4 separate regions of the Homo sapiens genome follow, and regions 1, 2 and 4 are each linked to region 3. The links come from fine-mapping of genetic effects on gene expression. A gene starts in region 3. Each other region holds a variant in brackets. All regions are shown on one strand. Distances are between the middles of the regions.

Evidence for each region. PIP is the estimated chance that this variant, and not a neighbour inherited with it, causes the effect.
Region 1: its variant is fine-mapped to the expression of THBS1 in whole blood (INTERVAL, PIP above 0.99).
Region 2: its variant is fine-mapped to the expression of THBS1 in whole blood (TOPMed, PIP above 0.99).
Region 4: its variant is fine-mapped to the expression of THBS1 in whole blood (TOPMed, PIP above 0.99).

The regions. Positions count from the first base shown.
Region 1 is chr15:39,257,063-39,265,324 of GRCh38, reverse strand. The region is part of intron 1 of LOC105370777 (a long non-coding RNA gene); the gene reads left to right. Among named protein-coding and RNA genes, the nearest start is that of LINC02915, 11 kb to the right of the region's middle. The variant A/C (reference allele first, on the strand shown) is at 4,772.
Region 2 is chr15:39,344,590-39,352,851 of GRCh38, reverse strand. The region is part of intron 1 of LOC105370777 (a long non-coding RNA gene); the gene reads left to right. Among named protein-coding and RNA genes, the nearest start is that of LINC02915, 98 kb to the right of the region's middle. The variant A/G (reference allele first, on the strand shown) is at 4,516.
Region 3 is chr15:39,577,361-39,585,622 of GRCh38, reverse strand. It overlaps THBS1 (thrombospondin 1), which reads right to left and starts at 4,544. Exons shown (of 22, transcript NM_003246.4): 1 at 4,395-4,544; 2 at 3,699-3,794; 3 at 2,871-3,430; 4 at 1,931-2,006; 5 at 1,436-1,635; 6 at 1,201-1,323; 7 at 60-153. The coding sequence starts at 3,765. LOC124903470 reads right to left here and starts at 5,816. Exons shown (of 1, transcript XM_047433405.1): 1 at 4,629-5,816. The coding sequence starts at 5,305. The coding sequence ends at 4,871. RefSeq lists silencers at 5,004-5,053, 5,064-5,293 and an enhancer at 4,716-5,453.
Region 4 is chr15:39,247,892-39,256,153 of GRCh38, reverse strand. LINC02915 (long intergenic non-protein coding RNA 2915) reads right to left here and starts at 5,485. Exons shown (of 2, transcript NR_144508.1): 1 at 5,291-5,485; 2 at 1,309-4,095. All of the region lies in intron 1 of LOC105370777 (a long non-coding RNA gene), which reads left to right. The variant G/A (reference allele first, on the strand shown) is at 3,207.

The DNA.
Region 1 (8,262 bases), 320 kb after region 3:
TAAATTATCTAATATCTCCTGAGAGATGCTGGACTGATAAACTGCTCTCTCAGACGCTAAGATTACGGATTAGATTTGGCCATGATTGTCAAAATAAAGCAAAATAATGCCATTTACACAAGAGAGCAGTTCTTTTCTCACATGAAAGGAGTCTGAATTGGAGGTGGGAAAGGTAGTCAGTGATTCTTTGCATCAGGGATCCAGGGTTCTTCTGTCTTGTTGTTTCACTGGACATGGCTTTCTTACTCAAAGAACTTCATCATCCAAAATGGCTACAGGAACTCCAGCCATCAGATCCACATTCCAGCTAGCTGGAAGGAGGCAGGTGGGTTGGTAAAGCAACTCCTCTTTTTAAGGAACTTCTTGGAAGTTGCATTCACTGTTATGCGTACGTTTCATTGGCAGAAGCTTTAGTTGCTAAGCCATACCAAATTATAAGAGATGCATTCAGTTGTCTATTTGTCTATTGTTACCATTTAGTTAACAGATGCATTCAATTTAAAATATTATAATCAACTTGCTTTTTTTTTGCATAAGAACATACTTTTTATGTGAAGGTTTCCAGTCCAGGTGCTAGACTGGAAAGTTTTCCAGACAAAAGCATGAATAACTTTGGAAAATGGCTGTTAGGAACACTCATGACCTAGGCTGAAAACCTTCAAGGGGAGACTGCCTATGCGAGGTGCCAGGGATATGGCAGTGGACAAGGCAAGGGCTGTCATCGAAGAGGTTGCAGTCTAGTAGAGGGGTCACAGGCAAACAGGGAATGGCAACATGGTAGGAAATGGGCTTTGAAGGATACTGCTGGAGTGATTTCACAGGAAAATACAAGATTTCAAATTGGAATCAGATGCAGGCCATTCTTTTGAAAGTGATATGTCCTGCGGAAGTCCTGCTGATTAGCTAAAAATATATTTGAAGACAGACAGATTGACATTATATTTGTTAACATAAAACTGCCAGTTTGTTTCCCTAAATGCAGGTCAAGCCTAGGTAGGAACACCCATGATTAGAGAAATCCCAGGTCTTAGATATCCTAGAAAGAAGGCTCTCTGTAGCAGCACATTATTAACAGGAGTTTATATCCCTCCACATAAGAAAACATAAACTAGGAAAAGGGGCTTTTTGTTCTTTAATCATAGATGAATGTGGTTTTATCAGTAGAAGTTATTCACCTATTAAAAAATGTCCACTTGTTCAGATTAATAAATTAGAATCAAGGGACTTCTAAAATGCTTGCACGTTGGTAAATATGTGAGTATAGACATAGATATGTAGATATTTTGTCAATTATATATGTATATATATACACATACATATATGTATATATACACACACACATATGTATATATATACACACACATGTGTGTGTATGTGTGTGTGTGTATATATGTATATATGTATATATACATATATATATATACTTAAATTCTAGGGTACATGTGCACAACGTTCAGGTTTGTTACATAGGTATACATGTGCCATGTTGGTTTGCTGCACCCATCAACTTGTCATTTACATTAGGTATTTGTCCTGATGCTATCCCTCCCCAAGTCCCCCAACTCCCGACAGGTCCCAGTGTGTGATGTTCCCCGCCCTGTGTCCAAGTGTTCTCATTTTTTAAATTCCCACCAATGAGTGAGAACATGAGGTGTGTGGTTTTCTGTCCTTGTGATAGTTTGCCAAGAATGATGGTTTCCAGCTTCATCTATGTCCCTGCAAAGGACACCAACTCATCCTTTTTTATGGCTGCATAGTATTCCATGGTGTATATGTGCCACATTTTCTTAATCCATTCTGTCATTGATGGGTATTTGGGTTGGTTCCATTTCTTTGCTATTGTGAATACTGCTGCAGTAAACATACGTGTGCATGTGTCTTTATAGCAGCATGATTTAAAATCCTTTAGGTATATACCCAGTAATGGGATGGCTGGGTCAAATGGTATTTCTAGTTCTGGATCCTTGAGAAATCACCACACTGTCTTCCACAATGGTTGAACTGATTTACACTCCCACCAACAGTGTAAAAGCGTTCCTATTTCTCCACATCCTCTCCAGCATCTGTGGTTTCCTGACTAATGATCGCCATTCTAACTGGCACGAGATGGTATCTCATTGTGGTTTTGATTTGCATTTCTCTGATGACAGTGATGATGAGCATTTTTTCATGTGTCTGTTGGCTGCATAAATGTCTTCTTTTGAGAAATGTCTGTCATATCCTTTGCCCACTTTTTGATGGGGTTGTAAATCTGTTTAAGTTCTTTGTAGATTCTGGATATTAGCCCTTTGTCAGATGGGTAGTTTGCAAAAATGTTCTCCCATTCTGTAGGTTGCCTGTTCATTCTGATGATAGTTTCTTTTGCCGTGCAGAAGGTCTTTAGTTTAATTAGATCCCATTTGTCAATTTTGGCTTTTGTTGCATTGCTTTTGGTGTTTTAGACATGAAGTCCTTGCCCATGCCTATGTCCTGAATGGTATTGCCTAGGTTGTCTTCTAAGGTTTTTATGGTTTTAGGTCTAACATTTAAGTCTTTAATCCATCTTGAATTAATTTTTGTATAAGGTATAAGGAAGGGATGCAGTTTCAGCTTTCTACATATGGCTAGCCAGTTTTCCCAGCATCATTTATTAAATAGGGAATCCTTTCCCTATTGCTTGTTTTTGGGAGGTTTGTCAAAGATCACATGGTTGTAGTTGTGTGGTGTTATTTCTGAGGCCTCTGTTCTGTTCCATTGGTCTATATATCTGTTTTGGTACCAGTACCATGCTGTTTGTTTTGGTTACTGTATCCTTGTAGTATAGTTTGAAGTCAGGTAACATGAAGCCTCCAGCTTTGTTATTTTTGCTTAGGATTGTCTTGGCAATGCAGGCTGTTTATTGGTTCCATATGAACTTTAAAGTAGTTTCTTCTAATTCTGTGAAGAAAGTCATTGCTAGCTTGATGGGGATGGCACTGAATCTATGAATTACCTTGGGCAGTATGGCCATTTTCACAACATTGATTCTTTCTATCCAAGAGCATGGAATGTTCTTCCATTTGTTTGTGTCCTCTTTTATTTCGTTGAGCAGTGGTTTGTAGTTCTCCTTGAAGATGTCCTTCACATCCCTTGTAACTTGGATTCCTAGGTATTTTATTCTCTTTGTAGCAGTTGTGAGTGGGAGTTCACTCATGATTTGGCTCTCTGTCTGTTATTGGTGTATAAGAATGCTTGTGATTTTTGCACATTGATTTTGTATCCTGAGACTTTGCTGAAGTTGCTTATCAGCTTAAGGAGATTTTGGACTGAGACGATGGGGTTTTCCAAATGTATAATCATGTCATTTGCAAACAGGCACAATTTGACTTCCTCTTTTCCTAACTGAATACCCTTTATTTCTTTCTCTTGCCTGATTATCCTGGCCAGAACTTCCAACACTCTGTTGAATAGGAGTGGTGAGAGAGGGTATCCTTGTCTTGTGCTGGTTTTCCATGGGAATGCTTCCAGTTTTTGCCCATTCAGTGTGATATTCGCTGTGGGTTTGTCGTAAATAGCTCTTATTATTTTGAGATACATACTGTCAATTTTTGTTTAGACTTATTTCTTTGTGGATAAGACCTTGCTGCTGCGGTCTGTGAACCAGACATTTATAATAAATCAGAAAGCAGCTACCTTCACATATATCCAATTATTGAGTTCTCTCAAAGAGGGATTTTTTTCTAGTATTTTAAAGCTTTGTTTTTCATAGATCTTATCTTGTTTTCTTTCAGAGGTTTCATTCCATTCCCCTATTGTTAAATTCTTCCAGATTGCTATTTTTGAAATCTGCCTCAGAAGAAAGCTATTATGGAGTCTCATATTTGTGGGATTTTCTAATATTTCCTTTACATAGCCTTTCTCAATAATTTTAAATCAAATTCATTAGTTTTCCTTTGGCAGTCTCAGGGCAATTGTTTTTCACATCTCTCTTGGAACTCCTATCAGGTCAGGTGTTAAAGTTCTGCAAGGGCAGCATTGGTTTCCACTCCCCAACCCACCTCTAGATTGAAACATTTTTGAGAAAATCAGTGTCTCATTTATATTCTCTCCTTTATCATCTATTGTGAACTGGATTGTGCCCTCTCCCATTCATATTTGGGACCCTAACCCCCATTGTGACTGTATATACAGACAGCAGCTTTAAGAAGGTGATTAAGGTTAAATGAGGTTATAAGAGTAGGGCTTAATATGATAGGAATGATGTCTTTATAAGAAGAGGAAGGGGCACCAGTAAACTGTCTCTCTCTCTCTCCCCTCCCCCTTCTTCTCTCCTCTCCTTCTCTCTCTCTCTCTCTCTCTCTCTGTCTCTGCATACAAAGAGAAAAGTTCATGTGAGGACACAGAGAGGAGGCAGGTGTCTGTCAGCCTCAATATAGACACCAAATTTTCCAGTACCTTGATCTTGGACTTCTAGCATCCAGAACTGTGAAAAAATAAATTTAAGTTGTTTAAGCTACCCAGTGTGTGATATTTTATAACAATAGCCTTAGCAGCTGAATACATTATTCAGCATATAATTCCTAGTCAATAGGTATTTGCTTGTCTACTATTGACTATAACTCATTTATTATGGGGAAAAATTTGGTTTATAATTATCTTACATTCTTGTCACAAAAAGCATCTCTAAGAGCCAATTTAAATGCTTTTCCCCAACTGCTTCCCATAAACACACACACACACACAGGCACGCACACATGCACACACCAGGCATTAGCCATTTTGAGTTTAAAGAATGGCCAGTAAATTTCTTTTC[A/C]TAATCATGGAAATTTCCTAATTGCACCCTTTGGATAGGAGAGACATGTTTCTCAAGAATCCTGTTCCTTGGAAGATATGTCATTCTTTTATGTTTGTTTTTGATGTCTGATTCCATAACTCTTTGCTCAGTTGTTTGTCATTGGAGGGATCCCTGCACCTGTCCACACAGGAAGGTGGAACAAAGGGGAAGGGTATATTTTAAGCAGCATGGATTCATTTATTCATTCATTTAATTATTCAGAACACTTTTATAATATCTACTCTTTTCCAATCACTGTTCTGGGAGCTATAACTACAAGGCTGAAAAGACAACATGTCCCTACTTTCAAGTTTACAATCTAGTGGTGGATGAGGCAGGCAATATACATATGAACAAACAGATAAACAAGGTAGGTGTAGATAGTGATAAGTTCTCCAGAATTCTAAGGACAGCTCTCCTCCACCTTCCAGAAACTAGTAGGGCCCACCAGGTTAGGAGCCATAGATCCTGAGGGGACCCAATAGTCTGTGAGTTGCCCCCAGGATCTTATATGTGGCTGACACATACAATTTTTCAGTTTTAATATTTTATCGTCTTGGTTAAATACCTATCTCATTTAAGTGACAAGTGCCTGGGGTGCTACTTTTAGCAAGTTTGTAAAGAGGAAATGTCAACTCATTCTATGTAGAGGAGAGATCTTTTTTTATTTTGTTTTATTTTATTTTATTTTATTTTATTTTATTTTATTTTATTTTATTTTATTATACTTTAAGTTTTAGGGTACATGTGCACAATGTGCAGGTTAGTTACATATGTATACATGTGCCATACTGGTGCGCTGCACCCACCAACTCGTCATCTAGCATTAGGTATATCTCCCAATGCTATCCCTCCCCCCTCCCACCACCCCACAACAGTCCCCAGAGTGTGATGTTCCCCTTCCTGTGTCCATGTGTTCTCATTGTTCAATTCCCACCTGTGAGTGAGAATATGCAGTGTTTGGTGTTTTGTTCTTGTGATAGTTTACTGAGAATGATGATTTCCAATTTCATCCATGTCTCTACAAAGGACATGAACTCATCATTTTTTATGGCTGCATAGTATTCCATGGTGTATATGTGCCACATTTTCTTAATCCAGTTTATCATTGTTGGACATTTCGGTTGGTTCCAAATCTTTGCTATTGTGAATAGTGCCGCAATAAACATACATGTGCATGTGTCTTTATAGCAGCATGATTTATAATCCTTTGGGTATACACCCGGTAATGGGATGGCTGGGTCAAATGGTATTTCTAGTTCTAGATCCCTGAGGAATCGCCACACTGACTTCCACAATGGTTGAACTAGTTTACAGTCCCACCAACAGTGTAAAAGTGTTCCTATTTCTCCACATCCTCTCCAACACCTGTTGTTTCCTGACTTTTTAATGATCGCCATTCTAACTGGTGTGAGATGGTATCTCATTGTGGTTTTGATTTGCATTTCTCTGATGGCCAGTGATGATGAGCATTTTTTCATGTGTTTTTTGGGTGAATAAATGTCTTCTTTTGAGAAGTGTCTGTTCATGTCCTTCACACACTTTTTGATGGGGTTGTTTGTTTTTTTCTTGTAAATTTGTTTGAGTTCATTGTCGATTCTGGATATTAGCCCTTTGTCAGATGAGTAGGTTGCGAAAATTTTCTCCCATTTTGTAGGTTGCCTATTCACTGTGATGGTAGTTTCTTTTGCTGTGCAGAAGCTCTTTAGTTTAATTAGATCCCATTTGTCAATTTTGGCTTTTGTTTGCCATTGCTTTTAGTGTTTTAGACATGAAGTCCTTGCCCATGCCTATGTCCTGAATGGTAATGCCTAGGTTTTCTTCTAGGGTTTTTATGGTTTGAGGTCTAACATTTAAGTCTTTAATCCATCTTGAATTAATTTTTGTATAAAGTGTAAGGAAGGGATCCAGTTTCAGCTTTCTACATATGGCTAGCCAGTTTTCCCAGCACCATTTATTTAAATAGGGAATCCTTTCCCCATTGCTTGTTTTTCTCAGGTTTATCAAAGATCAGATATTTGTAGATATGCGGCGTTATTTCTGAGGGCTCTGTTCTGTTCCATTGATCTATATATCTGTTTTGGTACCAGTACCAGGCTGTTTTGGTTACTGTAGCCTTGTAGTATAGTTTGAAGTCAGGTAGCGTGATGCCTCCAGCTTTGTTCTTTTGGCTTAGGATTGACTTGGCGATGCAGGCTCTTTTTTGGTTCCATAAGAACTTTAAAGTAGATTTTTCCAATTCTGTGAAGAAAGTCATTGGTAGCTTGATGGGGATGGCATTGAATCTATAAATTACGTTGGGCAGTATGGCCATTTTCACGATATTGATTCTTCCTACCCATGAGCATGGAATGTTCTTCCATTTGTTTGTATCCTCTTTTATTTCCTTGAGCAGTGGTTTGTAGTTCTCCTTGAAGAGGTCCTTTACGTCCCTTGTAAGTTGGATTCCTAGGTATTTTATTCTCTTTGAAGCAATTGTGAATGGGAGTTCACTCATGATTTTGCTCTGTGTTTGTCTGTTATTGGTGTATAAGAATGCTTGTGATTGTTGTACATTTATTTTGTATCCTGAGACTTTGCTGAAGTTGCTTATCAGCTTAAGGAGATTTTGGGCTGAGACAATGGGGTTTTCTAGATATACAATCATGTCATCTGCAAATAGGGACAATTTGACTTCCTCTTTTCCTAATTGAATACCCTTTATTTCCTTCTCCTGCCTGATTGCCCGGGCCAGAACTTCCAACACTATGCTGAATAGGAGTGGTGAGAGAGGGCATCCCTGTCGTGTGCCAGTTTTCAAAGGGAATGCTTCCAGTTTTTGCCCATTCAGTATGATATTGGCTGTGGGTTTGTCATAGATAGCTCTTATTATTTTGAGATACGTCCCATCAATACCTAATTTATCGAGAGTTTTTAGCATGAAGCGTTGTTGAATTTTGTCAAAGGCCTTTTCTGCATCTATTGAGATAATCATGTGGTTTTTGTCTTTGGTTCTGTTTATATGCTGGATTACATTTATTGATTTGCATATATTGAAGCAGCCTTGCATCCCAGGGATGAAGCCCACTTGATCATGATGGATAAGCTTTTTGATGTGCTGCTGGATTGGGTTTGCCAGTATTTTATTGAGGATTTTTGCATCAATGTTCATCAAGGATACTGGTCTAAAATTCTCTTTTTTGGTTGTGTCTCTGCTAGGCTTCGGTATCAGGATCTTCGAATAAGTTTTATTTATTTAGGAAAGGAGGTGCATGTTCTTGAACAGAAAATTCTCTGGGCAGCTAGATAGATGATTACACAATTACACAGATAATCCTCATCTTAGAACATTATTATAAATTATTTTAAAAATGAAAAATTGCTACATCTGTGGAAGGTGAGATTTTGGGGTCACATGATAGAGTAATAGATAAATTCATAGGTGGAATACCAGTGCAATAATTGGAAATATAACCTCAAGGCACCTTTTT
Region 2 (8,262 bases), 230 kb after region 3:
ATGTTGGCTTCTAGCAGTCCCTCAAAAGAACCACATTAATTCCTACCTTTTGTGACAGGTCCTTTATTTTATACATGCCATTCTCCCTGCCTGAATGCCCTACCCTCACCATCCCCACCACACCCCTTTTGCCTGGGAAATGATGGCTTGTCCTTCACTTCTTAGTGTCAAGGTCACTTTCTCAGGGAAGTCTCCTCTGAAGCCCCATCCTCCAGCTCTGTGCTTTCATAGGACCCTGTACTTCCCTTCATTGCATTTATTAGTATTTTAATGAATTACTTAATTTTGTGCCTGTCTGCTTGATGACTATGTCCCAGACTAGATTAAGCTTCATAAAGACAGTAGTATATTTTTCATGGTCTTCCCTGAATTCTCAGTTCCCAGTGTTTAACGTGTAGTAGATGGTCAGTAATTTCTCCCTCAATTAATGGATGTTAAATTGTGTATCTCCTATTTGAGTCTGAGTTCCTTCACAGCAGGTGATGGCTTCTGCTGCCGGGGCCAGGTCTAGGGGCTCCGGCTGGGCTTGGGATATATATATGTATATGTTGTATTGTGATAATAAACATAACATAACATTTACCACTTAACCATTTTTTAAGTGTACAACTTAGTGGCATTAAGTCCAACCATGTTGTGCAGTCATCATCAGACCTGGATTCTGATAGCCAGACCTGTAAGAATCTGTATGGGAGAATAAGACCTATAAGACTCTGTATGGGAGAAGCTGGAGGCAAAGGGGAATCAGAGTGCAAAGTCAAAAGAGAGCTTTCGGAATTAAGGAAGAAGTGAACAATGCAAAACATTAAGTCGGCAAGATGGGCAGTGCATAAGAAAATCTAGATCTTGGGGCAGGCACCATGGTTCACGCCTATAATCCTAGGACCTTGGGAGGCCAAGGCTAGTGGATCATTTGAGGTCAGGAGTTCGAGACCAGCCTGGGCAGCATGGCGAAAATCCTGTCTCTACTAAAAATATAAAAATTGGCTGGGTGTGGTCATGCATGCCTGTAATCCCAGCTGCTCAGGAGGCTGGGGTGGGAGGAGGATCACCTGAGCCTGGGAGGCAAAGGTTGCAATGAGCCAAGATCACACCACTGAGCTCCAGCCTGGGTGACAGAACCACTGTCTTTAAAAAAAAAAAAAAGCTCTAGAACTCTACAGAAGTGGCTTGAAGTAAGGTCAGAGAGGCAAAGAAAGTGGGTTCTAGAGGGAGTTTATCCCCAGAGGGACAAACGTGGTGATGGGAAACCTTCTGTGGGCTTGTAACTGAGTTCGTGGGTGGATGTGCTGGGATGCCAGGGCTGCTGCGACACCAGAGGCCACTTCTTCTTCACCTCTCTATACTTAGAATCTCTTGCAGAGTTTGGTGCTTGAGACGGCATGTAACAAAATGTTTTAATTAAACTTATGCTTTATGGCAATTGCAAAGGATGTTTGGGATGTGGCTCCGGCCTCCTTAACCCACAGGTGAAGGGTATCTGAAATGATCAGTTGCCTCTAGCCTGTTGCATCCCTGAAAAGCTGTTCCAGCTTCTTAGCTTTCAGATGGTAATAATGCTGAGGGGATTGAAGAACCGTTGTTGACAAAATACAGGTTTGCCAAGTTCACAATTTTTACCCAAGAAGCAGGTTGGCTGGGGAATTAGGAAGCAAATGAATGCTAACCTCTGGTGTAGCAGAGTCTGTGAGCCTCCTTGCCCTTTTCCCCTCCTGCCCTGCTGAACTTGGGGGTTGTGGGGTGGTGCTGGACGAAGGACCTCTTTGTAGCCTCTGACAGGTTTTATTTTCTGCCCTTTGGCTCCCTTTGCATCGTTGACAGACTTGCATTCAGTTGCCAAAACCTTAGGAGGGAGAGAGCACGTCCTTGCTCTGACACTGTGGAAAGGGAGGGGGCAATGAACGCTTCTCTGAGAAGGCAGGAAGAGGGATGGCTGTCATTCTGCAACTGCCCTCTTTAGCTGGAAAACCTGCTGCAGCTGAGTGCAGAGTCAAGGCCCTCTGGAAGGGAGGGAAAAGGCAGGCATTTCAGGCAATAGGACAGTGGGGATAAGTTAGTGAAGATGGGAATTAGCATAGAGTGAATAAATAAGCCTGAGGAATACAGAGGGAGCAGGTGGTGAAGAAATGGGCAGTATGGGTAAATAGACAATCTGTGGCCACACGAGAACTAAGCAGAGATGTAGAGGTTTGATGCAACAAGTTACAGGGAGATATTGAACATTTTCAAGCATTAAATAAATTTTCTTGGAAGCTATTGTATTTCATATCCTGATATAGGCTCTGGGATATGATGGTAGGAGAGATTAATGTGGGCCTTCCCTTAAAGAGCATAGAGTTTAGAGACGGGGGCAGGTAAGCACCAGGGAATTACAATGCAGTGCCTACATGAAAATGTACCTTAAAATTAATGTAAAGAAATGAATGAATTAGAAGGTGTAGAAATCAGAATCATGGAGGCCTGATATGAAGCTTTTGCAATAATTGGATACATGTTATGAAGACCTTGAGTGTATAGTGGTGGGAATAAGCAGAAATGAACAGAAAGAAGGTACATTTCTAAGAGGGGACAGTATCTGAAATGAAGTTTTGTCTAACTTTGCATTCAGTGTAATATTTGAATGAATGAATGCTGAACTTTCTGACTCTGGGTTATTTTAAGAAGGTGGCAAAAGTATAGCTACATGATTTTGAAGTTGGGTGACAGAATGGAGATACCGGTAACAGAACAAAGAAGCTGGGGAGAGAGGAAGAGGGGTAGGAAAAAAGGAATATGCTGTGGTCTGAATGTGTCTGCCAAAATTCATATGCTGACACTTAACTGTCCACGTGATAATATTGAGGTAGAGCCTTTAGGAGGTGATTAACTTATGGGGGCAGAATCCTCACAGATGGGAATAGGACCTTATAAAAGAGGTCGAAGGGAGCACTCTTCTGCCCTTCCACCTCTTCTGCCATATGAGGACACCTAGATTGTACGATCTATGAGGGATGGGCCTTCGCTGGACACTGAATCTGCTGGACCTTGATCTTGGAATTCCCAGCCTCCAAAACTATGAGAAATTTCTGTTGTTTATAAATTACCAAGTTTAAGGCAGTTTGTTATAGCAGCAGACATAGACTAAGACAGAAGGGAAAGGAAGGTGTTGCATTTGGCTTAAGAAGACATGTTGAGTTTAAAATGATGGTGGAACATCCCAGAGGAAGTGTCTAGTTTGTAGTTAGAGAATAAAGCAAGCAAGCAAAGAAATAAACAAGTCTTGGAAAGGAGTGTAGGACATTGCTTGTTAGAACAGGCTGTGAGATATTCATTTGGAGTAATTAGTCGGGTAATAATAATGGAATACATCAGACTGAGTTCCATGAGAAAGAAAAATAAAACTATAAAAAAGAGCACAGAATTAAGGATCATGACTTAGAAATTACTCACACTTTTCTCCCAATGATTGGGTTCTGGATTTGGCCTTGCTGCTGGACTTCTTGGTCCCATATGTCTAGGGTGAGGTCTTCTCCTGGCTGCTCACCAAGTTCATCCTCACCTCCTACATCTTTCAATGTTGCTTACTCTATGCTGGGGATTCAGCCTCTACCCAGGTTAACACCCAAGTAGCTGAACCTCAGCTAGTGTTTTCTAGGCTTTTCTTCCCAACAGCTAGACCCTAGCCCAGGGTCACTTAGCTATAACTAGGATCCTAATTTAAATTAGATTAAAATCGTCTCCCCACAAATTCTCAGACTGTGCCAATTCCAGACACCTGTATTTCACCACGGCCTAGATATTTCTTCTGTCGTTCTTTTCACATCAGACCATATGGACTGGACACAAATGCTGGGACCCTGATCTGCCTGCCTAGTTGCACCCTGTCCCTTGCCCCATTGATGTTCATGTCCACATTTCAGACCTGCCCTGGTTTTTTCTCACCTCTTTTCCCACTGGCCCCAGTTAAACTGCTGTCTTACCTCCAAGGTAGAGGGCAAAATAGAGAATACGCGATCCTTGGCATGACCTTCCTCTGGTCCTAGAGAAATGAGTCCCCACTAGGATTCTGTGAATCTGTCTGGATTATTTTATTGTCTTCTTTTTTTTAAATTTGGTAGTCATCTCAGTAGCTTTGAGAAGAACCATCTTTTTATGATGTTCCCACACAGCCTGGAAACCTTTGCAAAATGTTGTGGCCTTTTTGACTCTCAATTATCATCTGAAAATTCCTCAGTGCTTGTCACAAATGAGATGACAATCTAATTAGGAAGCTTGATTCTTCCAAAGACGTCAGCTTTCCAGAAGAGAAACAACTGAAATCATCATGGAAACTAAAAACCATTATGTTTTAGATTTTCTGAAAAATAAGGTGTAATGTAATTTTTTAAATTAGTTGTGAATTTTTCTGAATGTTGCAGCCATTATCCATCAGGGAAGTAACCTAAAATTGTGATAGGAAATCTCATTTGTCAATTTTGCTTATAGAAAATAGTTTTTGAATTACGTGTTTATGAATCAAAATTCAAAATGAATAAA[A/G]GGGTATAAAATAAAATGTAAGTCTTATCACGTCCCATCCCCCAGTTTCCTAGTTCCCCGCCCCACCATTGTTACCACTTGTATAATTCTTTCAGAGATGGTCCTAATGTGCACGCACACACACAAAAACACAAACACATGTATCATCTTTTTTTTTTTCCTTTAAATAGTGTATTATGCAATATTCTGTTTTTTTTTTTTTTTTTTACTTTCCAGTATCTTAGGGGCTATCATTAGTAAGTTTACACAGTGCTGCTTTATTATTTTCAAAGCTATAATAGCATTCTGTTATTTGAATATATATAATTTATTTAACCGATTAATAAATAAGTGTATGTGTTAATGTATTGAAGAGCATTTATATCATTTACAATCCAGGCTATTAAAATAATATCGTAATTAATATTTTTATACTTACTAAGATGACCAAGGGAAAGTGAAAATAGTGTACCTATGCAAGTTTTATTATAGGATAAATTCCTCAAAGTGTAATGTTTGTTTACAGAAATGAGGACATTTTAAATTTTCAGGGATACTATTGTTACCCATTTATACTCCATCAATTCCTACTGATGTATGAAATCTGTCTCTTTGCACCACTGGACAAAGTTACAACACAAAGAAGCTTAACAACAAAGTTTCTATATGAAACTTTATCTTAGTAGAATAAGCATTAATATTGCGAAATAGCAGAATATTTCCATTAAAAAAAATGTTAGACATTTGGCCTAAGGCCATACAGCCCTTCCCAGGTAACTGTAGGGGACCCTTGTGGATACCAAAATTCATGGATTCTCATGTCCCTCACATAAAATGGCCATAGTGTTTGCATGTAACCTATATACATCCTTCTGTATATTTTAAATCATCTCTAGATTACTTATAATACCTAATACAATGTAAATGCAATGTAAATAGTTAAACCATAATATATTTTTAATTTGTATTATTTTATTTTTGCATTGTTATTTTTTAAAATTCATTTTCAATTTTTTTTTTTTTGAGATGGAGTTTCGCTCTTCGTATCCTGGCTGGAGTGCAATGGCACGATCTCGGCTCATTGCAACCTCTGCCTCCCGGGTTAAAGTGATTCTCCCGCCTGAGCCTCCCGAGTAGCTGGGATCATAGGTGTGCACCACCCTGCCTGGCTACTGCTGTATTTTTAGTAGAGATGGGTTTTTGCTGTGTTAGCTAGGCTGATCTGGAACTCCTGACCTCAGGTGATCCGTCTGCCTTCGCCTCCCAAAGTGCTGGGACTACAGGCATGAGCCACCACACCCAGCCATTTTCAAATATTTTTAATCCATGGCTGAATCCACAAATGCCAAACCTGCAAATATGAAGGGCCAACTCTAATTAGCTGCAGGCATGAAAAATGGAATAAATAGCTCTCTATAGTTTGATTTGAGGGGCTCAGAAGACATTGGTATTTTTTCCTTAATATCTTATTGGTGTTTTCTACCAATATTGTCTAATAAATATTTGATGATTTTCAATTAATAAAATCCACTTAACCTATTTTATGTCATATTTTCCTCACAAGAGTCCTTGGAAATAAACAGGGCCTTGTATTTCAACTCTTTTTGTCCAGATCAAGCACTTGAGCATTAAATGTTTATTTATTTGTTGAAGGTCAGCAGACCAAAGATTCAGGAATTCTTTCTTCTGTGTCTGTGCTCCATACCCTTTCCCTTTTGTGTTTGGAATTAGACTTGCCTGAAGCATGCAAAAGGAAAGAAAATATTATTTCCTAGTTATTTTCTTCTTCTTTCCCCTAAATTGTGACTTTAAAAGTTTATATTTTAAGGTATACTTTTCTTTTTTATTTTTGAGAAAGAGTCTCCCTCTGTCACCCAGGCTGGAATGTAATGGCGTGATTTTGGCTCACTGCAACCTCCGCCTCCCGGGTTCAAGCAATTCTCTTGCCTCAGCTTCCAGAGTAGCTGGGATTACAGATGCTCGCCACCACTCCCAGCTAATTTGTGTATTTTAATACAGATGGGGTTTCACCATGTTGGCCAGGCTGGTTTTGAACTCCTGACCTCAGGTGTTCCACCTGCCCCAGCCTCCCAAAGTACTGGGATTACCGTCATGAGCCACTGTGCCCGGCTTAAGGTATACTTTTCTTAATGCGCAAAGTGTGCTAAAAGTTTGAAAGTAAATGCAAATTTTATGAATTGAATAAAAAAGCTATCAGAGTTGCTCATTTTTCTAAACAAAGACTCTAGTAAATCTTTTTGGAAAGAAATATTTTCCAAAGAAAAAGAAAACTCCTATTTTACTTGTAATGAAAATCTGAATTATAATATGTATGTCACTTGAAATGTTTTTTCTTTGTGCATTTTTCTAATGTTCCCAAAATAGTCCTTAGAAAAAAAAGGGGACTTATTAAACATTATTGTCTGACTCCCTAGATTATTTTATGGTTAATTATTCTCTATTCTTTTGCTCTTACATATAATTAACTTTTGGGACTATGTAGTGCATTAAGAAAAATCCGTCTTTTAATTTAACATAATGATTAGATATCATCATATTGAAAGGCCAGAAAAACTCCACCATTTGCCACATAAGAGGGATTCATTAATTACTAAGTTTTGTTGACTAGCAGAAGACTAATCCAGTATCATTTGTGGTGCTATCTTTTTGTTTTTTTCGGAATAGATGCAGATTTTACCATTTGTTCATGACATGTTGATATTCTTTGTGTACCACGTCATGCAGTAAATATGAATAGCAGTATGAAAACAGCACATTTATGTGTTTAAAAAGTAAGTTTTGGTTTTCTCCAAATTACTTTATCCTTTGGTGTTATGAAACATACTGACACTAGAATTCTTTCTAACAAGAATTTCCTCCTTAATGGGGAGAAAGGATAATGGCAATTGAAAACAAATGTTGCTTAGGCATTTTACAACATTGTAGAATTTCCACTTAGGGGCACATTGGATTCTTGACCAATTCGGCTCAAGAGTTAGGGATTCTTTGTTTTGAGAACAAAGACATTACGAGAGATTTACGTGAGAGGCTCTTTGTTATGGCCTAAGCATCTGCTGAATTGTCACAATCCACTTGGCTAAATCACTGTTTTATGTGAGTTCAGTACTTTTCTGTTATTAAAAAAAAGGCAATGAAAGCACTGAAATTTAGGAAAAGATTTAACCAAAGCCTCTGGGAGAAGGGGAAAAAAATGGAGAGCACAAGGTGATTTAGAAAAGAGTGTCAGCTCTAGAGAGTTGAGCCCTCTCATTGTTACCTTTGACAATAGACTTTACCATGTTTCCTCATGAAACAAAACAAAACAGTTCTTTTTGTTACCTGATGCCCCTGGTATCATCCTGTTCCTTCAACAACAAACTCGAGGAGATTTCATTTGCATACTCAGTGTGGGTACCTTCTGGCTACTCTCTAGCTATTCATCAAACTTTGTGTTTTAGAGCAGGGGTTGGCACACTTCCTGTAAATGACTGGATAGCAAATATTTTTGTTTTGTGAGCCATATGGTCCCTGTTGCAACTCTTCAATTTTGAAAGCAGCAGACATTGAACTCCGAAAGAGATGATTTGTAAACAAATGAACGAGTCAATGCATATTTACTTACACAATTAGTGAGTGAGCTGGATTTGGCCTACAGGGTATGGTTTGCCAACTTTTGTGTTAGAGGATGGGTAACTTTCCATTTATTCATTGTTGATTTATTCATTAACTTAAGTGTTTATTGGGTACTTACTAATTGCCAAGTACTGT
Region 3 (8,262 bases):
GGATGTATGTAGAACTGACCTAGTCACTGAAGAATAGCTATGCCATTTGAGAAACTTACGCCAACAGCGAGGACAGCATTCTCCATCAGGAACTGTGGCATTGGAGCAGGGCATGATGGGGCAGGACACCTTTTTGCAGATGGTAACTGAGTTCTGCAGGGCAAGAGAGTGAGAGGGGAACAGGCTGCTGAGCATGTTGCATACAGAAGTCTACATCCTGTAACATTTCCTTTACAAGCCAAAACATGGTCAGGGCTGTCAATGCTCTAGTGGAATGATTTTCATAGATCTGTCTCTGTCATATTTGCAGCCACCACTATCGTAGAGACAGTTCTAGTGCTAGTTTACGTGTCACTCCATTCCTTGGAAAGTTCTTTTTAATTGCTACTTAGTCAAGGGTGGAAGTTACAGTACAAAGAATTTATAGCAGAGGAACCAACAAACATCATGGGTCAAATCTATGTCTGAAATCAAACTCAGAAAATTCAGCCAGGACTTTTACATTTTTATATTATGTGTTTGGGGGGAGGAAGGAAGATCTATAAGCACTTTTTCCTCATCTATAGATCTGTGATCTGTCTTTATATTGGAAAAGAAAGGGAATTTAATGAAGTTGGTTCCCACAGCCAGTCATCTGTGATTTGTATTTAAGCAAATTCAAATACTTTGCTATTAATAGATAAGCCAGGTGAACCTCCAAACTCACTGGCCACTGGCATGCGGGGATGCTAGAGTGAATCACACACCTGGCAGTGCCATCTGAGCAAAGCAGACAGTAACATCCTAACAGTGTCAGACTAAGTGATTTGAAAAACAATTGCTACTGTACTAAAAGAACCTATGCCAAAGCTGAATATAAATCAGGGTTGGGAAAAAAAAATGAATGTTCCAACCAGGTTTTATTTACCTGACATTCAACACTTAGTCTTTGAACTAAGGTAGGTAAATTATTCAGATGTCTTAGTAGATTCATTCTCTTAGATACTTAGCCTGGGGTATAATTAATACTTTGATAAACCATCTGAGAGTTTAAAGAAGAACTTATAGATGCCATAATTGCATCTTAAAGAAAAAAAAAACACTTTGTTATCAGGCCATGGAACATAAAAAGAATCTCTGTGGCGATTAGGGTATTTCCCCAAAGATGTAGGTTCAAACAAAAGCCGTCGATTCTTATTCTGGCTGGTGAAGGTCCCTTACCTGACAGTGACACTCAGTGCAGCTATCAACAGTCCATTCCTCGTTATTTCTGTACTGAACTCCGTTGTGATAGCATAGGGGAGGCCGCCTCAGCTCATTGGCCAACTCTTTGTTCTCTTCAGTCTAAATGGGAGAGAATATCATTAGTGTCCCCCCGCATTTTCAGTCATTTGGGACCATCTGCGATAAACCTTCCAGGGTTCATGCTAACGGGCTGGGTGCAGAGGCCACTGACCACTTTGCGGATGCTGTCCTGCAGCGTGGTCACAATGGTGCGCAGGCCCCTGAGTTCCAGGACCATGCTGGACAGCTCATCACAGGAGATGCCGCAGATGGCTTGCAAGTCCTTTGTCTTGTGGCCAATGTAGTTAGTGCGGATGGCAGGGCTGGAACCATTCACCACGTTGTTGTCAAGGGTGAGGAGGACACTGGTAGCTGGCAAGAAACAAAATGAAAACTTCAAATAGATACTCTTACCAACCAGCCTCTTGAGTTCTTAGTGGTAGAAGACGTTTCATTTGGTGTGAAGGATGCAGGTAGAGGGGTTGCGTGTATGCGCACGTGTGTATACGTGTGTGTGTATAATACCCCTTGGAGTCACTTCTGTATGCCTCTTGATGATCTCACTGGGGGTAATTTATGTATAACCACTATTGCTAAATTCCTCAGTTTGTTTTTGGTGGAATTCCCCCTGATTCCCTATGTGCCCTAAAAATAGAGGGGTACTCACAGCTGGAGCAGCCTTTGTTCCTGAGGATGTCTTCTGGTGTGGTTCCAAAGACAAACCTCACATTCTGCAGCACCCCCTGTGGGCAGAGGACACACATTACTTGTAGAATGCAGAGCGGGGTGGGGATGGGGTTGGGGGAGACTGTCTGTATGCTAGGAAAAGCATACAATAGATGTTCTAAAAGCTTCAAAGAGCTGTCTTAAGATCACTATGTCAAAATAACACAGCAACATTAATCGCCAAACAACTTCAAAATCTTAATTGTGACTTCTGCCAAGTCTTGAGTATTTTACAAAGAATTCAGTTATCAGCCTACTTGGGTACACAGGAAATGGAATCTGATCCTAAGCCTAGAGGATATAATGACACTTTCCAGTGTCAAAGAGTTAAATGTGGGAGTTCAAAGCCACCGTTGCAAAGATCTAGAAGTTAAGGCACAGATGAAGCTGTAACAGCAACAACTAACTGCTATTTTAACCTTTTATGTGAGACCAGCTGCATCCCCATGAGGAATCCAATAGCAAAGTGGTACTGATTCTGCCCATAGAAAGTATCCATTTCAAACAAGATTAAAATTGGGGGAATGCATTTGAAATAAGCTCTTTTCTTAAGAGCCTAAGGAGTATCTAAGGCTTGAACAGGCTGACTGCTAAAGGAAAACCATTTCTTGTTTCCTTGAGTAGTTTTCAAAGTGTGCTTCCCAGACCACCGGCATCAGCATCACCTGGTACTTGTTAGAGTTGCAGTTTTACAGAATCCCAGACTCTGGGGCTGGGGTGCAGCAGGGTGAGCTTTCACAAGCCCTCCAGGTGATGCTCATGCTGCCTAAAATCTGAGAACTGCTGCGTTAGTTTACAGACAGGATTTCCTGTAGCCCTCCTGGCAGGTCACCTGTCTAGCAGATGATCCCACGGAGCAGGGCTCAGAGAAGAAGCCTCACCTGGAAATTGTCATTGACGCCCCCCTTTGCGATGCGGAGTCTGGCGATGCTGGCCAGGTCTCTGGTGAAGACGCTTTGGATGGGGACGTCCAACTCAGCATTCTCCATCTTTTCACAGTCGATGTACAGCTGGGCCCTGTCTTCCTGCACAAACAGGGTGATGCTCTTCCACTGGCCGGTTGCCAGGAGAGCTTCTTCCACAGACACCACGTGCTGCTTTCCTTGGACGGTCAGGCTGAGGTCCAGGGTGCCCGCCTTGCCATTGGACACCACGCTGAAGACCTGGCCAGAGTGGTCTTTCCGCTCCAGGGCCAGCAGCGTGCCCCGGGTCTTCTTCATCTGCCTCAGGGATGCCAGAAGGAGGAAACCCTTTTCTGCCCGCACAGCATCCACCAGGTCTTGGAACTTGTCATCAGGCACAGGGGGGATCAGGTTGGCATCCTCGATGCGGAAAGCTGGGCTGGAAGGGTCGGGGCCCTTCACCAGTCGGCGCCCAGACCCCTTGCGGGCGGCCCCGGTGAGTTCAAAGATGTCAAACACGCTGTTGTCTCCGCCAGACTCTGTTAGACAGGAGAGAACACAAAGTGAGCTTTCTAGGCTGGGACCAGCAGTAGGGGGCTGAGTCCTTAGGGGTGGAGACAAAGGGTTGGGGTGAAAACTCCTGGCAACCACTGAAAGAGGTGAATAAATACCAGGATCAGAGTGAAGCTGCGTCCTGATGTCCAGTCAGGCTCAAGAGGGAGAGGACAGCACGTGAGGGGGCACACCTGGGATAGCCAGCACCTCTTCCTTGTCCCTCCTTCCCCTAAAGGTGCCACACAAACTCACCTGGAATGCGGTTGGTGCCACACACATGCATCAGGAACAGGACGCCTAGTCCCCAGGCCAGCCCCATGGTGGAGCTGTTGGTGCCCAGCAGGGATCCTGTAGCAGGAAGCACAAGAGCCGAGGGTCAGAGATCAGCTAGGCAGGGAGGGACGGTGCGCAGAAACGGGGCTGGGCATGGGGACAGGGCCGGGACCATCCCTCTTTGACCCCGCGTTTGCTGAAATGAAGGACAACAGGATTACTTTCCAGAGAGCATGAGAGAGAGAGAGAGAGAGAGAGAGAGAGGTGGAGGAAAGAGATGCTGGTTTTAAAGTGTGGGGGGCGCAAGACCAACAATTTGGGGGCTTTTGGGAAGTCGAAGGTGAGCAAGATCAGGAACTGTAGTTTGGGGTTGCAGGGAGGGCAGGGGAAGTACAGACTCTTCCCTGGAGTGCTGATACAAAGGCTTAAGGAGGACTTCAGAGAGTAAGGAAATCTTGGGGTGTCCTGATGAGTTGGTTTGTGAACCTCAAGGCTGGAGAGGATGGCTCTGGAGCCTTGCCCTGAAGAGTCCTCCAGCGGCTGAGAGGAGCGGGCTGGGGTAGGCGAGCGGGGAGAGTGTAGGTTCCGGGGTCCACCAGAGGGACTGAAGCCTCAGCGCTCCAGGTGGATGTCCCGGGCAGCTTTGGTCCTCGGCGGCCGCCGGGGGCGACTTACCTGTGTGTACCGGAGCGCGGCGGCCGGGAGCGGTGGCGAGGGCGGCGAGGGCTGGAGGGGCGCGGGGAATGCCTGTGCGTCCGGAGTAGAGGTTGCTCCTGGAGAGCGACAGGAGCCCTGAACTCGCAGGCCAGCTCGGGCGCAGCGGCTGGCAAGGCGGAGGAGCCGCGCGCTTTTAAAGGGGCGCTCGCATTCCTGGGGATTCCTCCGGCCAATGGGCGGCGGCCGGGCAGGAAGCGGGAGGTGGGGGCCAGTCTGGGCTCCTCTCTCCGCCCCCCGCTGCCTGGCGCGCAACTTTCCAGCTAGAAAGTGAAGGGGGCGGGGGTCGGGGCTTGGGAGCACTAGAACTTCTCAGAAAAGTCGGTGCCCGCCCACGCAGCCTTGGCGCGCACGGGCTCGGCGCTCGTACTCTTGCGCCACGCGGGCTCGGGGTGATCAGCAAGCATCCCGAAAAGGGACGGGGCTGGGGAGACCACCTAGGAGGGCCCGCGGGGTGGCGCAGGGGCTTTCGGGCGAGCTGATCTCCCGGAATGCCTGGTTGATGGCGAGAGGTGGATACTAGAGACTGGGCCCGTTTTGTAAAAAGAAAAATGGGCCGACGGGGCGCAGGGGACACCAAGAGAGCCATTCGTTAAAGTACCTGCCCCTCGGGCCCTCGCTGACTCTCCTCCACCGTCCCCGTGGGGTGAGGACACGCGTCCCCCGAGCGCCTGTCCTGAGCTGGCCCCACGCCCGCCCCGGAGGGAGGTGAGCGCGGCGTCGGCGGGGCCGGCAGGTTGGTGCGCCGCGTTCGCCTTCGCTGCCTTCGGGCCCTTTCCTGCCGCGGCTGCCAGGGGGCCCACAGAGACGCCTCTCCCGCTGCCGCGGCGCTCCCTCGGCCGGCCGCTTGGGGGCGGTGTGCGTATTCTCATCAAGGGGCCCGGGGAGGACAGCTGCTTTCTACTCGAATTTTAAGGAAACTTACTCGTATCCAGTTTCCACAAGCCAAATTGAAATTGTGTCTTGAAAAACAGTTTTTGTGCCCACTCGTGCTTCTTAACGTGACTCCTGTTTGGAGAATTTGCAGAACCATCTGGCTCCAGAGTCTTCAGCTATTTACAGAGCAGACCCATAGAGTAATAAATTACTCTCTGCCTATTATTGTATTTCCCTTTTTCCTCCCTAAACGTTCTTTTCATTTTTCGGCTCCTGAACCCGAGGTGTGGGTTACATTTCTGTGGGTGCACACATTGCCATGAGTGCCGCTGCCTAGTGCTTCTGTCATTGAAGTCTGGTCTCCAAGCCACTGTCCCAAGCCAGCATGACTCTAGCTTCCTGGAATTCCATTCATCTCTTCGGGATGGGACGTCAGCCGCCTCGCTCCCTCTGCTGTGATCCAGCGCTATCGGGCTCGCTCCGAGGCCAGGGCATAGGTAGAAGCTTGACCAAATAAGGATCTCAGCACGGGCAGGGGGAAACCCCTGGGGTTCACCTCCCATCTTAGCACTTAAACCTGGCAGGACTCCCGACTGCTGCAAACAGCCAAGTGTTTACATTCATCAAACAGCAGTTTCGCTTTTCTTGCGTGGGAGTGTTGTATGACAAGATGGTGTGTGTGTGTGTGTGTGTGTGTGTGTATTACGGAAAGAGTGTTTTCTAGTTACTCAATATGTATATAAAATGCCTCTAAAAGATGACCGGTATGTTCCTAAGGCACATGTTTGTTGGATTTCAGATGTTGGGAGGCAGAAAGAAAAGTTTCTACTGGTTGATGAATAAAATCAGATTCTTGTCCCGCAAATCATAGGTAATGATTCATCCAAGCAGATCTGAAGATTCTGGAATCGGCACCCATCCATCTCCCTCCCCTTCCTTCTCCTTCTACAGCATTCATCTTGCTCTTCGAAAAGTAATTGGGTTTTTTTTTTCTTCTTTCCACTTGCTCCATGATACTGGACAGTCAGAAATAGTTCTTGGAGGGATGGGCCGCTCATGGCTCTGGGCTCCTCTGGCCCACTGGATCATTGTGTACAAATCAGATGGGGGCTTGAGGGCTGCAAGAGGCCCACAAAAGCAGAATGCATCTTGTATGAAAAGATTATCTCCCCTAGGCTTAGCTGTGCAGACAGAGTAGAAACCAGCACTCACTGCCCCTTCAGGATTCATGCTGCCATGGCTGAGGGATTGTAGGAATGCCTCTGCAGATTTCTTGGAACTTGGCTTCTTTCAACAAAACAAGGACAACAGTTTCCAAACTTCATCATGCTTTACCAATAAGAAGGTGACCTATACGGTGGCAGGAAAGAGCTTTCTTATTAGAGAAAGCTGACAGGTATAGGAGCTGCTTATCTCAAACACAAAGCCCTTCCTCTTATCATGATACTTCAGTTGTTCTGGGTGGAAAGGAAAGGTCATAGAAGAGGGAGTGTCTGCGCCCCTTAACAGGAATTCACCCACATTCTTGCCAGCCAACATGTGCTGCAAATATTCCCCAAACCTCATATACCTCTGTGCAGCTTTGAGAGAAGCAGGGATGGGAAAAGGGAAAAGAAAACCTATCCCCTTTAATGTGAGGGCAATAGTCCATTTTGAGTGTGTCTCTACAACCTGGAAGCACTGTGATTTTAAGGCAATCAATTAACATGGGCCGAAGTGATGGACCTTTCAGGGAGCTGGTCCAGTTCTCTTTTTTGCCAAGTTGTCATCCTTGAGGATTAGTTACTGAAAATTGTAAGGCATATGGCATTTCACCGTAGGATTTCCTTTTTCTAAGTTTCTCTAATTGGAGGTGGGATTGACCTAAATACATTGGCAGTAAGTGTGAGGAAAGGGCTGTCAGTTACAGCTAGTTTTAAAATTGCGTGTAATTAAGGAGAGCAACATAATTGAGAAAAAATATTTTGTTTATTTAGCATAGAACAGCAAGGTGGGCTGTGATTTTGTGTAGGAATTTTTTAAGTGTTGCAAATTTTCAGTAGTGGAACATTTCTTACAAGTGTGAAGCAATGAAAAATCATTGTATTCTAGAATAGTCTAAAATCATAGCATCTTCAAATTGAAGACATCATAAATTCATTTCTCTCTGAATATGTTCCCTAGATCATAATTCTAAGTTGCTTTACTTTAACTGCATCAGAGGTCAGAGCCAGGAGGAAGTTACCAACAGATTTTTCTTGTCCTTCAATCAAACACCAATTCAAGCTCTCCCTTCTCCATGAGGTGTTTTCCATCTGTTTTATGCTGTGTGTTTTAAAGCACACATTATCTCTATCATAAAACTTATCACCTAACACTCTTTATTATTTAGTTTTTAAAAATTAGCTTTTATTTTTTCACATGTAAAGACCAGAATTTTTTTTTGGTGGGGGGTGGGATGGAGTCTTGCTCTGTCTCCCAGGCTGGAGTGCAGTGGTACAATCTCAGCTCACTGCAACTTTTGCCTCCCAGATTCAAGCGATTTTCCTGCCTCAGCCTCCTGAGTAGCTGGGATTCCAGGCGTGTGCCACTACATCCAACTAATTTTTGTATTTTTTAGTAGAGTTGGGGTTTCGCCATGTTGGCCAGGCTGGTCTCAAACTCATCACCTCAGGTGATCCACCCTCCTTGGCTTCCCAAATTGCTGAGATTACAGGCGTGAGCCACTGTGCCCAGGCAAGGACCAGACTTGAAGTGCCCAAAGCCCTGGGCTTGGGAAGAGAGAGTTCTTATGTTTAAATTTCCAAATCTCTTTGTGTACAAGTCAATTATGGCACAGAAGGACGGGACTACTCACCATTTTCCTACCAGCTCTACCATTTTACTCAGTTATCCCTTAGCTCTTGGTGGGTAAATGTGGTGAGTGACTCACAAACATTGTACTCCTCTTCAAAGAACTGAAGCAATACTTTTA
Region 4 (8,262 bases), 330 kb after region 3:
CTCAGAAGCAACCAAGTCGCATCTTTTTTCTCTCTAAATTATCAAGGCAGAGGTCTCATTTCTCTACTTCCTTTGCCTGAGTAGAAAGGGTAACTCAGTGAAAGTGCTGTGTGTGACGTGTCTGGGAAAGCTACATGGGGGAAGCAAACACACCTGTTATGGAAACATCTGTGAGTTTTCCCAAGGAGAGCAAGAAGCACTTGTGTGTCCGCAACAGATGGTGCTCCTCCCGCTAACCGCAGAGTCATGCCCATCTGTCCATCTGTCCAATATAGTACAGTTGCACCGCCTGAATTTGCTCACTTTTGATTCCCTGATCCTGTTGGAATAGCAGGCTATGGCATTCCTGTGGGAAAATGTACTGTGTACCACAGTGGTTCGAATTATGTACTGGAATTTAGTAAGTAAAACCCTGGAATAACCAACTTTCCTCATCGTATGTCCTAATGACCCCTTTGAATCTCACATACTCTTCTTGTAAAATGGTCCAAATGGCATTCCTGGAGGGGGTCCATAGATTATATAGTGTATTAGTCTGCTGAAGTTGCCTTAACAAAATACTGAGTAGCTTAAATGACATAAATCTATTTCTCATTGTTCTGGAGGCTGGAAGTCCAACATCAGGATTCCAGCATGATCAGATTCTAGGGAGGGCCCTCTTACTGGCTCCCAGATTACTTCCTTTTACTGTGTCCTTACCTGACAGAGAGAGGCAGAGAGAGAGAGAGAATCAGTCCCTTCTTTTAATAAACCCACGAGTCCTATTGGATTAGGGTCTCACCCTAATGACAATGACCTCATTTAACCTTAATTAGGTTCAATGTTCCATCTCTAAATAAAAGCCCTATCTCCAAATACAGTTACATTGTGGGGAAGTGGTTAGGGCTTCAAATATGAATTTTGGGGAGCACAATTCAGTCCATAGCATATAGATATGTGAGGATTAAGTGATTAAAAGGTCAATTTTTTTTGAATGCCTATTTAAGAAAAGTCATTTAGGGGTTTCATTTTCTTTAACACAAATCACAAGTTTAAAATGTGACTTTAACCCAAGTCACATTTTCTTTAACTCAAAACTCTTTAAAAGTTCTTGGTCAAGTATTATCATTCATTGAATGATGTTTTCCTTGGTTTGAAAACTAGTGAAGGGTGATGGGAACTTGTGGCGAGTTAGGGAGGAGAAGGGGCGCAATCTTAGCGAGGAAGAGGGAGGAGCATAATGGGAAGAACATTTGGTGCAATATTCGCTGAGTTCTAGCTCAGATTTAATCTAAGTTTTATCAGTCAAATGGAGACCTTGATAATTACTTTTTAAAAAAAAGTTTTATTGTAATTGACAAATAATTTTGTATATTTATGGGGTACAATGTGACTTTTTGATACATGTATATACACTGTGGAATGAGCAAATCAGGCTAATTAGCATATTTATTTTCTGAAACAATTATTTCGTTGCGGTAAGAACATTAAAATTCTCTTTGTTTAGCTATTTTGAAATATATAATACATTACTATTAACTATAGACACTGTGCTGTGCAATAGAACACCAGAATTATTCCTCCTAACTGAAACTTTGTATCCGTAGAGCAATGTGGACATTTTCCCTGTCTAACTCCCCACAGCCAATTCCGGGTTTATACCCAAAGATATTTAAATCAGTATTTCAAAGGGATGTTTGAGCTCCTGTGTTCATTGCAGCATTATTCACAAGAGCCAAGATAAGGAATCAACCTAAGTGTCCGTCAGCTGATGAACAGATTTTTTAAAATGTGCTGAATATACAAAATAGGATACTATTTAGCCTTAAAAAAAAAAACAGGCAATTCTGCCATTTTCAAACAGGGATGAACCTAAGGACATTATGTTAAGTAAGATAAGTCAGGCACAGAGCGACAAATACCATATGATCTCACTTATATGTGGAATCTAAAAAGGTAGAAATTGTAGAATTAGAGAGTGGAATATTGATGACTACTTCTTAATGTGTATTTGGAGTTTGAATGACTAAATATACATAAAGCGCTTATATTTGAACATATAAGATGTTACAGATATTTTTTCTGTCCCTTGCCCCATCTTTCCTAGTATAATAAAGTTATGCTACAAGTTAGTCACTTACGAATTCCAATTTGAGGATTCAGTTTGTGACTTTTGCTGGTTCTGAGAAATCAAGAAATACTGAGCCATTGCATGAACAGTGTCACTAAGTATAAGAACCTGAGAAGTTCAACTTCAACAATTCTTAAAGTCTCCCTTGAGTAGAAGGTGAATGAACTGTCATAATTGGGCAAGAAGTGAGTTTATTCTGATTGCAACAGTAGGCAGCTATTAAGAGACGAGTGTAACTCTGGATAGAAGTTTCTATGGTTTCTGCCTTCAGCCTTGTCATGTTCAACATTCTAATCAAGACCTAGATCAAAGGAGAAGTTGATGAGCTTAGTATTCAGCTGAGAGAGATGGGCTATGTTGGCTAGAAATTAAGCAATGAGCTCAATCTAGAAGATACAAGTTCTGAAGTTGGACTCTTAGAAGCAACTGAGGCTCAAGCACTTCTGTAGGCACTACATTCTGGGTAATTTAAAAAATGTGTATACTTATTCTCACATCCTTTAAGCTCAGCTGAAATCTACTCTGCAAAGTCATGCTTGAACCCTTGCTTTGAGCTAAGTGTTCTGTCAATTCCAACATATACACCTGTAATAAAACTGCTGAAATAATGTTAAAGACTCTTTAAAGCCAGGATCTTTACCATATTAATTTTCGTACTCCCAATGTCTAGCGTAGTGCCCAGCACATAAGGAATTTCCAATAAATTATCGGCTGTTGCTAGAATAAAAATTCAAAAGTAGGCAGTGTTGAGTTGGCAACTTAATTTTCTAAAAAGTATTAATTGCCTGCCTATATGGACAATAGAAACAACAACAACAAGAATATCCTGCCAATAAATCAGGCTTTTTGGCTGGTGCCTTGTAGTGCCTTGTAAATATTAGTAAGCATGTTTCCTATTCTAAAGTAGGTTTAAAAAAAAAAAAACTTAAATTCAGTAACTTCGTTTCACCTTCTTGAAGAACCTGCATTTCCTTTACATTTATAACCATTAGAGTGAGGCATGTTAAATAATTCAAATGAGAAATCCTAGTTTCCACCTTTATGTATCTCTCGGGTTTTCCTTTGTTCACCCAGTCTCCTGCAAAAATCATCAAAT[G/A]TTCAAATTTATAGTTTGTGACTTGGTCACCCTGAACCTCTTGGTGACCCGGAATGAACATGAGATGCTGTTATTTAGCACTTGGAGCTCAGTTAGATATTAGTTTTCCTATAGTGAAATACTCTGATGCCAGTGAGGAAGGAAATCAGAAACAGGAATCAGACGATTCTGGCCAATCCTCCCAATACGAGGAGAGTGTCACTGACGGAAATGGGTCTGGATACTGGGTTTCTCTCTCCTAAATCCTTTGATGCCAGTTATTAAAATGGGTTACTTCTTACAGCCATGACATTGAACACTTCAATGAAATGATGCAAGATTTGGACTCCAAAATGTCCCCTCTCTCCCCTGTCAGCAGCATGAGCCTGAGCACGGCAAGAGTCAGCCAATATAGTGCACACACGCTTTGTTGAACTCATGTTCTTCCACCCAGGAGACTGAGGTTTCTGTGCAAAGAGTAATGTCAATCCGCTGGAAATCACTGGGTTGTCTGTTTCTTTGTTTATGACTTCTCCATATAGTTGGTTCTGCTCCAACTTATTTGAAAGGGACATCTGTTGGATGATTTGATGTGATGTCTGTTCCCTGAAAGTCATTTCTGACAGGGCGATGTAAAGGAACCTGAGAGGGAGCTCCGTCATGTGATGAGTGGCTCTTAAGTGCAGGAACAGATTTGAGAGGATTATCCAAGACAGTAACTTCAAGATCAAACTAGGCCATGGAGTTAGCCATAAGGCTCTGCAAATTCTTTGCGGCTCAGCCCTCTGGGGTCTCCTGCCACCGTGCTTGCCAGTAATGAATTTCACTTCCATGTGGGATCTTTCAGGTCTTCTTGACACACTGAAGCCATATGTGTTTCAGCCACTTCAGACATCATCCTGCTCTTTAACTTGAAGAACAGTCTAAGTCAGTGAGGTTTGCCATGGCATCAAATCTCCTTTTAAACCCACACCGCTTGAATAATAACTATGATTCTGGATAGTTGACTCATGAATATTTCCTGCGAAGGAACAATGAGGGTATTCTGAGGAAATTAAATCCATACAAGTAATTCCCAAACTTTATTCATGTTTGAATACTTTCTAACTTCAAATGTTTTTACCAGACTGGTAACACATAGCAAAATCAACTGATAAGATTGTCCTTTTTTCTTTCTTCCTCTTCCTCTACCTAACACTTCTCTAGTGTGGTACTAACTGGAGAAGGCACAAAGAGTAAGTAGATAGAAAGGGAAATGAAAAGTCAAAGAGCCCTACACTTTTTTTTCCCCCCTCTCTCCTGGTAGTCCTACTTCAAAGGCAGTGTAGCTTTCTCAGAAAGGCCAACCCACACTCAGAGGGTGAAGTTGGAAAACCCCAGCAACCCTATGATACACAATAAACCCATGTAAGGAGGTGGTCCCTTACAAACAGTTGGCTATGAATATCTTCTTTCAAATAGTCTGACACTCGTGGCATAATTATTTTTGTAAGAGTCCTCAGGAAAGTCTGTTTTGAAATACTGCATAGCTTAAGACTACAATAGTACCTTGCATAGTTCAATGTAAACATATCCAGGTGGCTTGTGAAGAAGAGAGGAAGCCAGAGGTGATGCTTCTCTATAGGAAAATGACACTGCAGCCAGCCCCCCGAATCCTGAGAAGACCCTAAATACACCACTCCCCCTCCCCGACAACTACCCAAGTGATATCCTGTGAGTGACTGGATTCTAATCTATCGAATAGTTTCTGTACATGAAAAAAAAATCAATTTTGGAATAAGAGTTGCCAGCAGAAAGATTTCCATTTATTAGGCACCTACCAGGTGCCTGATTCTATTGGGTACATTAAAGATATTCTTTCATTTAGTTCTCACCTGGAAACTCTCAAGGCTTGTTCACATTTTACTGATGAGAGAAATAAGGCACAAGAAGATTAAACAAACAATCCAGGCCAACTCAAGTGGAGGGATGTGTGGTTGAGTTCAGGTCTGCCTGTAAATCGCTTGAGGCCAGAAACTTTTCTCTATTTTGTTCACTGATGTGTCCCAAGTGCCCAGAAGAATGCCTGGCAAATTGTAGCTGCTTAGTAAATATTGAATGATTACCTTAATGAGAGAATCCAGCACGTGTACTCCTAAGTATTATTCTCTACAGTTTCTCCTCAGTCTCCTCACTCCAGTCTGTTACCTGCCCCTTTCTCCCATCCCATTTCAAAGGGAAATGGAGCCCAGAGCTGCAGTGGATGCTGTAGAAAGTTATATCTCTGTGTACATCCTGCTGAAGGAATGGAGCGATTGTCAGGGAGCTGTGTCATTGAGTCTGAGGCCTTACTTCCTTGCTCTCCCCCTTCTATTTCCTGCTTCCTCCCACAAAGATTTTCTGAGTCCTTGCTGTGTGCTGAGCACTGGAGACTCACTATGAACAAAGTTGGTATGGTCCCTGTCCTTATGCAAATTATTGAATAAATTATAGGTACGGTGAGTGTTTTGACAGAGAGGTAAGAATGTTATAGAAACATATAACAAGAGGACTCAGACCTATTCTTTGAGGTCAGGAAAGACATCTTTGCAAATTTTAACTTTAAGACAAGATATTAAGGATAATTAAGAGTTCCTAATGTATACCTTGGGTTTCCTGGATGTCTCTGCCTAAGACACTTTTAGGGAGGAGTTAAGACTGTTTTCCTATAATACTAAGAAGTCATTTGCCTTTTCATTCTTATTGCATTACAAGTGTACAATGGAGTTTTACAGAAGCTGCATAACATAGATTTCACAACAGATTGAATGCAGAAGCAGACATGAGAATCCATTTATCCTTTAGTAAGCCAGATATTGGTAAGATTTGCAAAAAATGCATAACAGCACTACTAGTCTCACTCATGTATTTTTGGTTTTGGAAAACGTGGCTATGTTTTCATAAAATGTTATTTATGTTAAGGTATAATCAGTTTACTATGTTGTTTTAAAATGAATTAAATATTTAAAAAAGAATTGGTTCTAATTTGCAACATGATATAATGATATAATCTACCTTTTTTAAAATGAAAAGGTCTTTGGGGTTCTTCAGAAGATTTGAGAGCACAAAGGGGCCGAGCCCCAAAAGTTTGCGAATGGCTGAGCTAAGAGAAGAGGAGGAGGGAGTGTTCCACAGTGAATAAACAGCCTGTGTAAAAGCCCTTCCCTGGTATACGACTTGTAGTTTTGAGGATATTAAAGAAGTCCAATGTGGTTGGAACATAGAAAGTGATGGAGAGAGAATATAATATGCAGAACAATGGGTAAGCAGTGCCATATTTGAGAGCAATGACTTAATCTTAGGTCAGTGGGAAGTCACTGAAGGGTTTTAAGCAGGTTGGAATTGATGAGATACATGTTGAGAGAGGAAGGAAAAGGAAAGAAGAAAGGAAAAGAATGGGGGGACACAGAGAAGGGAGGTCAGGAGGCTTTTGGGGAAAACTTAGTAAGCTATGAGGGAGGGACAGTAGGGCTGGATAGAAGAGGATAGATGTAAATAATATTATGGAGAATCTAGAGGACTTGGGTTTGATTGTCAGTAGAGAGTGACTTGTTTTGTAAAAGAAGGAATGAATTTTCTCATGGTTTTTTAGTCATACCACTTGATTTTAAATTCTAGCGCTAATTCTGTGACTGTGAGCAAATTATTTAAACTCCATAAGCTACAATTTTCTCATCTGTAAAAAAAACAGGAACAAGAGCCACAATTTCATATGGTTGTTGAAGTTATTTTAAAATGCACACATATCTAATATAACTGGATTATCGTAATTATTTATTTGTTTCCCTTACCTTCTCTTTAACTCTCTTTCTTACCATTTTAAGATGGAGGGGGGAAGTTGGCAGTGTTCTTCAGGAAACATAAATTCTTGGGAAGGGAGTTTGGACACCATATGCAAAATCTCCTCCTGTGATTCCTCTACACACTGGAGGTGTGCTTTCCTCAAGCACTTGAAGCAAATGTGTTCTCTAGTCTCTTCTCTCTCTCTCTTTTTTTCCCTGAAGACTACTCTGTCATTTAAGTTCAGTTATTTTTGTCTTACCTGCTCACTTTGGACTTGAAACTTTGTCCCGTTCTTCTTGTTCCATAGTCTGATTCCTACTATTTTTTTCCTTCACCTTTCTCTTCCCAAAGTCTTAGGCTAGCCTTCTCTATTTCTCAGCTTTGTCATGCCCTTGACTTTGCAAGATTCTCTTTCCTGGCAACCACCATCTACAGACAAAATATTAATAACTTTGGAGGAGTTAGGACAGAGGCATTAAAATTATTGTAAATAAAGCCAGATAGTCCTTTTGACTGGGTCCTGAACTACCTTCTGTTATTCCTACAAGTATCTTTTGAAAGGCTGTTCTCAAATGCGTTGACTTGAGAATTTAGAGAAATATTCTTTCGGGCTGAAGGGAAAAGAGACAGAGAACTACAAGGTCACAGGACCATGACAATATGTTGCCTTTTGCCAAGTGGCCCTTATTAAACAGCCTAGGAGGTGAGTGGAGGAGAGCATGGGTCTGGCAGTCTGCCCTGGGACAAGGAGCTTTGTCTGCACGCAGGTTCCCAGCTCACAGACGGTCCATATTTGAATAGAGCCCATTGTTTACCACTTGGGTGGAAAACAGAGGAAATAGGCAATGAGTCAGGCACCCACTTGTTTCAAAAGGAATTTTTAAAAGAGTTTCAGGGAAATCTAAGAGAAAAATAGAAGTTTGAAGGAAGATGAAGGAGACAAGGACAAACTGAGGGCTGCTGGATGCTAATGACATGCTTTTCTTTGCTGATAGCCTATCATTCTGGGTCTGTGGGTTCCAACCCTGAACCTGAATCCAACAGGAAAGGTACTTCTGGAGAAGAGCTTCCACTCTGGGGAGGCATTCTGACTAAGATCTAATCTGAAGTAGTTTGGAGTAAATTGATCTGCCTCTTTTCTCCATTTAAAGGACATTTGCTAAAAATGCCTTCTTCTTCAAAGGGCCCGCAGAACAGAGAGAGGGGATTACAGTGTGTATAATTTTTGAAATATGGTAACTGATCAGCAAATGGCATAAACTTAGATCTTATACAG